3 separate regions of the Homo sapiens genome follow, and all the other regions are reported to be linked to region 2. Evidence: microRNA targets listed by miRTarBase, many of them from high-throughput screens and not tested one by one. Region 2 holds a microRNA gene; each other region holds the end of a gene's coding sequence.

The links. The annotated mature microRNA hsa-miR-32-5p reads UAUUGCACAUUACUAAGUUGCA and lies in region 2 at 924-945, opposite strand. An mRNA with a match to its seed (bases 2 to 7 or 8) in the 3' UTR can be bound and repressed. Matches are read on the target gene's strand: a 7mer-m8 pairs with bases 2 to 8, a 7mer-A1 pairs with bases 2 to 7 and ends in A, and an 8mer does both.
Region 1: miRTarBase lists PGAM4 as a target of hsa-miR-32-5p. Seed matches in the 3' UTR shown: 7mer-m8 at 1,356-1,362.
Region 3: the mRNA of DDI2 is a reported target of hsa-miR-32-5p. The part of its 3' UTR that is shown has no 7-base or 8-base seed match.

Annotation. Positions count from the first base shown.
Region 1 is chrX:77,966,323-77,969,322 of GRCh38, reverse strand. It overlaps PGAM4 (phosphoglycerate mutase family member 4), which reads left to right. Exons shown (of 1, transcript NM_001029891.3): 1 at 1-1,374. The coding sequence ends at 449. All of the region lies in intron 1 of ATP7A (ATPase copper transporting alpha), which reads right to left. Among named protein-coding and RNA genes, the nearest start is that of PGAM4, 1.8 kb to the left of the region's middle.
Region 2 is chr9:109,045,349-109,048,499 of GRCh38, forward strand. It overlaps MIR32 (microRNA 32), which reads right to left and starts at 950; the gene lies at 881-950. All of the region lies in intron 14 of TMEM245 (transmembrane protein 245), which reads right to left.
Region 3 is chr1:15,656,470-15,659,469 of GRCh38, reverse strand. DDI2 (DDI proteasomal shuttling factor 2) reads right to left here. Exons shown (of 10, transcript NM_032341.5): 9 at 2,791-2,853. The coding sequence ends at 2,837. Among named protein-coding and RNA genes, the nearest start is that of RSC1A1, 1.7 kb to the left of the region's middle.

The sequences.
Region 1 (3,000 bases), not on the chromosome of region 2:
AGCATGGTGAGGCCCAGGTGAAGATCTGGAGGCGCTCCTATGATGTCCCACCACCTCCGATGGAGCCCGACCATCCTTTCTACAGCAACATCAGTAAGGATCGCAGGTATGCAGACCTCACAGAAGATCAGCTACCCTCCTATGAGAGTCCGAAGGATACTATTGCCAGAGCTCTGCCCTTCTGGAATGAAGAAATAGTTCCCCAGATCAAGGAGGGGAAACGTGTACTGATTGCAGCCCATGGCAACAGCCTCCAGGGCATTGCCAAGCATGTGGAGGGTCTCTCTGAAGAGGCTATCATGGAGCTGAACCTGCCGACTGGTATTCCCATCGTCTATGAATTGGACAAGAACTTGAAGCCTATCAAGCCCATGCAGTTTCTGGGGGATGAAGAGACGGTGTGCAAAGCCATAGAAGCTGTGGCTGCCCAGGGCAAGGCCAAGAAGTGAAGGCCAGCGGGGAGGATACTGTCCCCAGGAGCACCCTCCCTGCTGGTCTTGTCCCTCTGCCCCTCCCACCTGCACATGTCACACTGACCACATCTGTAGACATCTTGAGTTGTAGCTGCAGATGGGGACCAGTGGCTCCCATTTTCATTTTAGCCATTTTGTCGCCTGCACCCACTCCCTTCATACAATCTAGTCAGAATAGCAGTTCTAGAGCACAGGTTCTCAGTCTAAGCTGTGGAAAAGCTCCCCTTATCCAACAGAGTTTAAAAGTAGTGACTTGGGTTTTTGTGAGTGCTTTGTTTACTAAGGACTTTGGGGAGGAACATGCTAAGCCACGACCAATGAGGAGAAGCAACAGAGCCTGTCTGTCCCCATGAGCAGAGTCTGTCCTCTGCTCTTCTGCAGTCAGGCCACTGCCTGGGGGCTCTAGTCATTCCAGTGGAAGATGAATGTAATCTGCATGGTGATGTGACAACTGTTTCCTCCTTGACCCCAGAGGATCTGGCTCTAGGTTGGGATCAATCCTGAATTTCGTTATGTGTTATATTTACTTTTATTAAAAAAGTATAGTATATATTAATAATACAAAACAATAACCCTTCTGGGGTTTCTTGTGGCGGTTGAAATAGTCCCACATGTGGTCATCAGAAAATAAGCCATTCCTCATACCAATATAGGATCAGCTCCTTGACCTCTGAGGGGCAGGAGTGCTTCCTGGTGTGTGTATTAGAATCCCTTCCTGCCTTGTTTCATGGCAGTGAAATGCCTCTTGGTCCTGTCCAAGTGTGTCTTTCACTGATTTCTGAATCATGTTCTAGTTGCTTGACCCTGCCACATGGGCCCAGTGTTCATCTGAGCATAACTGTACTAAATCCTTTTACCAGATCAGTATAATAAAGGAGTGATGTGCAATTAAAAAAAAAAAGTATTACAACATCATTTTAGTTTTGGTGAGCTCAGAGAAACTTAAGCAGAAAATGCTGAACCATGCCCGCTGCTACTAACAAAGCAAGATGATTAATGGACTCTTGTAACTTCTCCAACTAATTTCTGTGGAGCTTTGAACAATTAGACCACCCAGTCTATGGTATTATGTTATGGAAGCCTGAACTAAGACATATGCATTCTTTTTTAAATTGGGATATAATTCACATGCTATAAAATTCAGCCTTTTAACCTACAGAATGGGAGAAAACATTTTGCAATCTACCCATCTGACAAAGGTCTAATATCCAGAATCTACAAGGAACTTAAACAATTTACAAGAAAAAAACAACCCCATCAAAAAGTGGGCAAAGGATATGAATAGACATTTCTCAAAAGAAGACATTTATGCGGCCAACAAACATATGAAAAAAAGCTCAACATCACAGATCATCAGAGAAATGCAAATCAAAACCACAATGAGATACCATCTCACACCAGTCAGAATAGCAATTATTAAAAACTCAGGAAACAATAGATGCTGGTGAGGCTGTGGGGAAATAGGAACGCTTTTACACTGTTGGTGGGAATGTGAATTAGTTCAACTATTGTGGAAGACAGTATGGCGATTCCTCGAGGATCTAGAACCAGAAATACCATTTGACCCAGCAACCCCATTACTGGGTACATACCCAGAGGAATATAAATCATTCTACTATAAAGACACATGCACACGTATGTTTACTGCAGCACTATTTACAATAGCAAAGACTTGGAACCAACCCAAATGCCCATCAATGATAGACTGGAGAAAGAAAATGTGGTACATATACACCATGGAATACTATGCAGCCATACAAAGGAATGAGATCATGTCCTTTGCAGGGATATGAATGAAGCTGGAAACCATCATCCTCAGCAGACTAACACAGGAACAGAGAACCAAATGCTGCATGTTCTTGTTCATAAATGGGAGTTGAACAATGAGAACACATGGACACAGGGAGGGGAACATCACACACCGGAGCCTGCTGGGGGGTGAGGGGTGAGGGGAGGAAACTTAAAGGATGGGTCAATAGATGCAGCAAACCACCATAGCACACATGTACCTACGTAACAAACCTGCACGTTCTGCACATCTATCCTGGTTTTTTTTAGAAGAAATGAAAAAAATTCAGCCTTTTAAGGTATCCAGTTCAGTACTTTTTAGTACATTCACAAGGATGTGCAACCATAATGACTATGTAGTTGCAAAACATTTTCATTACTCCAAAAAGAAATCCCATGTCCATTAGCAACACTCCCCATTTCCTCTCTACTCACAGCCCCTGGCAAACACTAATTTTATTTCCTATCTCTACGGATTTGCCTATACGGCCATTTCATATAAATTGATTCATTCAATATGTGTCCTTGTGTGTCTGGATTCTTTCACTTAGCATAATGTTTTCAAGGTACATTGATGTGTAAAATGTATCGGTATTCCATTCTTTTCACTTTCTTGATGGTGTCCATTGAATCACAAAAGCTTTTAATTTGTGAAGTCCAATTTATCTTTTTTCTTTTGTGTTTTTTGTGTCATATCTAAGAAACCATTGCCACATTCAAACTTACGAATATTTACTGC
Region 2 (3,151 bases):
GCCGAGCTGCTGAAGGGCACAGGGGATGAGCTGCTTACGTGGAATTCTTCCATTCTCACCCTCCAAAACAGTGGTGAAACACAGAAACATACAATGACAGCATCACAATAGATCATCTGGAGGCTATGGTAGTAGTAAATATTAATTCAATATTTTCATACAGTAATACATGGTTTTGTGTCCTTGACAATGCCTAGTGATTGTGGATGCTTACTCTAATGCTAACTAAAAAAATAACAAGGGGTTGTTTCAATTACATAGGCAAATAGTAAACGTGTATTTCAAAACTAGTTCCATTATTAGCCCACTAAAATGAATTTAGCAGTTTTCGAAGCATCACAATGAGAAAGTAAAAGACACATTTTTAAGGTAATTTACCTTGGAAACTTAAGTTTATGAGATGAATCTTTCATCAGGTAGGTTAAGCATACCTTTACTGTCTTGATTATTATTTAAGAACTCCAGTTAATTTAATTTCCCCAAATATGCATAAGAGATTTCTGCTTCTCTATTCCAGTGTTGGGAGAGATTTCTTCAAATAAATGAAAATACATTTTCTTACAGCTTTACATTCTTCCTTATACATTTAAATATTGTTTATACTCTTAAATCAATGAGAATTTGTAATAAATATTTCATTTGCTCAAAGTAAAAAATGGAAACACTGATTTACTAAATGATCATTGCTGACTTTTTTTAATCCAAATACTTTTAATTCTCCAAAATTGGAAGGTACCGATGGGAAGCATGTTCACTTTCCAAATGAGAATCGCATGGCATACACACTGTCTTATCTAATTCATCAGGACACCCACCCACTGGCACTGAAAAGCTGTAATCCCAGCAAGCAAGAGCCATACCCGTGTGCATGCACTCATGTGAAAATATCACACACACTAAATTGCATTGAGGCCGTGACAACATGCAACTTAGTAATGTGCAATATCTCCACCAGAGCAAGCAGAATGGGAGCATCAGGGAAGAAGGGTGTGATGTATACATTCAGGAGACAACATGCTGCTGAAGAGAGGAAAATGGTCTGGGGATAAAGGATGCATGCCACTGACTCAAAACTTCATGAAATGAAAACCCAATTGCAAATGTATTCAACTGAGAAGAATACTTATTCAGAATCAAAATAATGAGTAAGGTTCAAAACTTCAATGAGATAGTGATCATAAAGAAACCACATACTTCAGAAGGCAAAGCTTCACGAACAGACACTATCACTGTCTGGTCATGCAATTAACCCCCAATTTCAATTCCATTTTTGACTTATTCACAGATCATATAAATGAATGTAATGATTTCCACTTAGCTGCAACATAGATGATGATTAATGACTGATGCTTATAAAAGTTGGTATCACTGATATTTGTAGGCTAAACTGCACTTTGAGGACATTACAATATTTTCATAGTCATTCATAAATTATAAATAACCACTTATTTTTCCCTCAAAATCTTTTTCCATGAAGAAACATATTGCCTCTTCAACACAAACCTTCAGGATGAAAAATCCAACAGGAGCTCTTAGAAAGAGAACTCACTACCATCTTCTCCACAGGAGAAAGCTCTTCAGAGGAATCTCTGTAAAATCTGTACATTTTAAGTCTTGAATTTGAGCCAGTAAAGAAACAGCCCTAGGAACTTAAACTGCAAAAAAAACACCTTGAATTATAGCCTTAAAATTACATAACTTGATATAGCTTTGGTTAGAAAAATGTCTCAGGCCATAACCCATTCTTTAGTCTGTACCATATTTATCAGACTCATAAAAATCTATCAATTCTGAGAACCATTAGATTATAGTTCTGGTACCAAAGGTTGTTAAAATTTTTTCTGTATTTAAAATAAGGTGATAATAAAACAAATGGTTTTTAAATGCCAGTATACTATGGAACCAAGACATAAGCTACTGTTATAATACATAATTAGTGTATGCACTCCCAAGAAGGGAAGTCGAATCTAATTTGTAAAAGACTGATTTCCTCATATCGCTGTAGATGACAGCACTCTTTGTAATCTCAAATTCTCTCCTGAGCCAAAGACCTGAATTTCTAAATGCCACCCTCTTATGTCCACAAATATAAGTCATGATCTTCCCTAACCAGCTCCTCTTGAAAGAAGGCATCATGGTGTAACAGAGTATGTGCTTTCAATCAGCTGAACCTAGGTGTGACTAACAGCTTTACTTACCACTGACTGGCAAACACAACAGCTAGGAATTAAGTTTAAAACAAAAAAGGTGGCATATTTGGTATGAAAAAAGGTGACAGACATTTAGAGGATGGTCTGCTGTAAGAAAGCAGAACAAGAGAAAATTCAAAAGCTGTGATGTGAAAATAGAAACATTTTTCTAAGAATAAGAGTCAGTAACAATGAAGATTACTTGAGGAAAATGGAAGCATCATCTTTCTTGAAGTTCTTTATGAACAAGGTAGATATTTTTCTGCAAAGCTTGGCTTAAGCCACACTGACTGGAGAATTCCTACCAGCCTTTGATATGGCTGCTACAATAAATAGCTTTACCCCACTGGGAAGATAAAAGATTAGCCTTCCTTTTTGGTAGAGCATTTGCAAAAGCTTTTCTGAGTCAGAAAGATATCACCTAGATAAACAAAAGATTATCTATTGCTAGAATTTTCATCATTTCATTTATTCAGCAAAGATGATAGTCAATGGTCATATAGGACTTAGGAGGGAAGCTATAGCTGGTACTTCCTTCGAAACAGCTTCACCCCAATTGCTGTTACACTGGATAATATACTCCCAAATCTGGAATCTTTATAGATGGCCCCTGTGTGGATACCTGAGGACACTATACAGGTGTTAAGAGCATTTTTTTTAATCCCACTTGACAGCCAATCGCGGAAACAAGGTATTGGTGAAGATCTTACCCAGGCCTTGCTAGTAGGAAAAGGGGAGAGAACTTAGCAAAAGTTCTACAGACATTGTATTTTAGGAGCATGCATCCTGTTTGAATGTAACTGAAGGTTTTCTAACAATCAAATGGGATTCTCCCTAGCTATTACATGAACACAGTGAAAAAATATACCAAGATCAATCAGGTGCAATTATCAGAGAAAAAAAAAAAAATCAAGATTTCTGTGGAAGACTAGTTCCAGACAATATTTATTAAAAGTATGTGG
Region 3 (3,000 bases), not on the chromosome of region 2:
CACTTGCCCTAAAACCACCAGGGACGCTTGTGAAGTATGCAGACCCTGGGGTACCATACTTGAGAGTAAATCCAGGAATGTGCATTTTCAATAAGCTCCTTGGGTGATTCTTAAGGATATTACAAATCCTGAGAATCTTTGCACCAGAATGATTCTCATGTTAATGCACTTTTCTTGTTTCAAATGTGAACACTGAGGTTACAAATGAGAAGTCTTAAACCAGGTATACCTGGACAGAGAGGGAATTATAAAGAGAAATAAGAAATAACATAATGCTTGGGGACAGAGAAGCAAATGTTCTATTTTATTTCTAGCCAAGCTTTCCAAAAATCATGGTAAAACTGGGTGAGCATCTGACTCAGAAAACAAAAGTAAACTAATGATCAGCAGATTAAATCACAATCATCATCCTACCAAATAATACAACTCTAAACTTAAAAGGCTTATAAGTTTTTATCACATCAATAGTGTGCAACTAAGTTAAGAATATTTAAATGTTTTAAAGAAAGGGGAATGTGGAGGGAGATGGTTCATTAATAGTTTTTCAACTGGCAATGACTATTTAGATTCACTGCTACCTTAGACCACCCAAACAAGACGGCTCAGTGTAAGCATCATAGTATCATTAAACATCATTTCCAGCTCTTCTTTTGCCACCAATCCAGTTAAAAATTGACCTCTACGCATGTAAGTGTAAGAATTTTTTTTTTTTTTTAAGACTGTGTTTTGCTCTTGTTGCCCAGACAGGAGTACAATGGCGCCATCTGAGCTCACCGCAACCTCCGCCTCCCGGGTCCAAGCGATTCTCCTGCCTCAGAGTAGCTGGGATTACATGCATGCGCCACACACCCGACTAATTTTGCATTTTTAGTAGAGATGAGGTTTCTCCACGTTGGTCAGGGTGGTCTCAAACTCTTGACCTCAGGTGATCCGCCCGCCTCAGCCTCCCAAAGTGCTTGGATTACAGGCAAGAGCCACCGCACCCGACCATTGTAAGATCTTTAATTAAAAATCAAAAAGGGCTGGGCACAGTGGCTCATGCCTGTAATCCCAGCACTTTGGGAGGCCGAGGCAGGTGGATCACCTGAGGTCAGGAGTTCGAGACCAGCCTGGCCAACGTGGTGAAACCTCATCTCTACTAAAAATACAAAAATTAGCCAGGCGTGGTGGTGGGTGCCTGTAATCCCAGCTACTAGGTAGGCTGAGGTGGGAGAATTGCTTGAACCCAGGAGGGAGAGGTTGCAGTGAGCCAAGACTGCACCACTGCACTCCAGCCTGGGTGACAGAGTGAAACTCAGTCAAAATAAAAAATAATAATAATAAAAAATAAAAATCAAAAGGTCAGTAACAAAAATGACTTCAAAATACAATCTATTATTAGGACAGATGCAACTCAAATGCTCAGTACTAAATGTTAACATCCAACAAGAGGGCTTGATCTTAAAAAGCAGCAAAGCAGTTATATTCAAAAGGCTTTAAATCATTCTAATAAACTACTGGTTAACAGCATGAGAAGACAAAGCATTGTTTCAGGAAGCTATTGACTTCCCATGAAACAATCTTACCTTACTTACACTTTAGGAGTAAAAAGGAAAACTGCACTTATCTCAGTTTAGGCTATACCCATTAGAGTCTAGAAACACAGTTATTAGTTTTTTTATTTTCATACCACCAGATGTCTAACAGTTATTAGTTTTATTTAAAACTAAGGCTGACTCTGGAAGAGGTTGAATTTTGAACTAATGTTAACAGAAACAATGCACTGTAGTGAAATATCCATGTAAGCAACATAAAGAGGTATGGTAAGGGCCTTCTGGTATTTGTGTGTTAGTTATAAACAAGTGAGGTCAAGGTGAACACACCCTCAATGAATTTTGTACTAAAAAAGTAGCATATAGTCCTCTTGTAGCTGAGAAGGTCAGTTTCACTAGCCTAAGTCCTAAACGTAGGGGAGGACTAGGTCAGTTTACAGAATGACAGGAGAAGAGGATGAGGACAGTGGATATTAAGAATAATTCAACTATGCCTGCTTTTAACCTATCCTTACAAGGAAAAGAAAAAGGAAAGAAAGAAGAGAAACTAAATGCTATGTATCTAATTCCAACCAGCTTGCAAACTCCTACAAAGTCTTATGATGCTGGTTTAAAAGACCATCTTTCCTCCTCTTAGTAAGTCAGCCAATGTATTCGAGCTGATGTTTACCATTATTTACATCAGAGGAAATGGAAGCAGAGTGCTTCCTGAAAATCTGTCAGGCCAGAGACAGAAGGAAAAGCAAAGTCTTAGTTCCTGTTGTTCAGAGTCACCCCTGACAAGTCCTCTGGCCTAAGTTTCCATTTCTTCTTCAACAAAATTAAAATTTCTAACCCTCTATAACTCCAGGTAGTTGTATGCAGTAATGTAAAAGAACAGCTTTCAGTTTTTCAGAGGAAAGGCACTTATGAAACCCATGAAAGCATAGTTATCTCCAACAACAAAGTGTTGTGAGGCCAATATTCTTGATGTGATATTTATAGTAGCCAAGATGGGGTAGATATAATAGACACTGTTTTAACTGGGATTTTCTCCCTGTTGGATGGTTCTAATAACGAATCCATTTTTAAACAGGAGTTTATGTTACATATCCATGTATGCATGCCAAAATACAAATGCATATAGGCTAGTTGTAACCAGATTGAACAAGGTGAAATGGTGAATGACAAATGCTAACTTCCCAAACTGCTGCGGATACAGACTGTCAGATCACAGATGACAACTGGATGGAAGGCTTAACATGGTGTCTATAAATACCTGGTCTGGGGCCCACTCCAGCTGCAGTACACACACACTACATGCATCATGGCTTCTGACGCTCTGTGTGAATTAGGAAACAGACAAGCAAACTTGGGTTAACAATGCAAACCACACAGCATGCAGGGTTATAGTTTCCGTTCTTTTGCCATCTTTAAAATCAGGAACTGGTAGATTCCAAGTTGAGGGATGTTTCTGTAGTTTGGACAT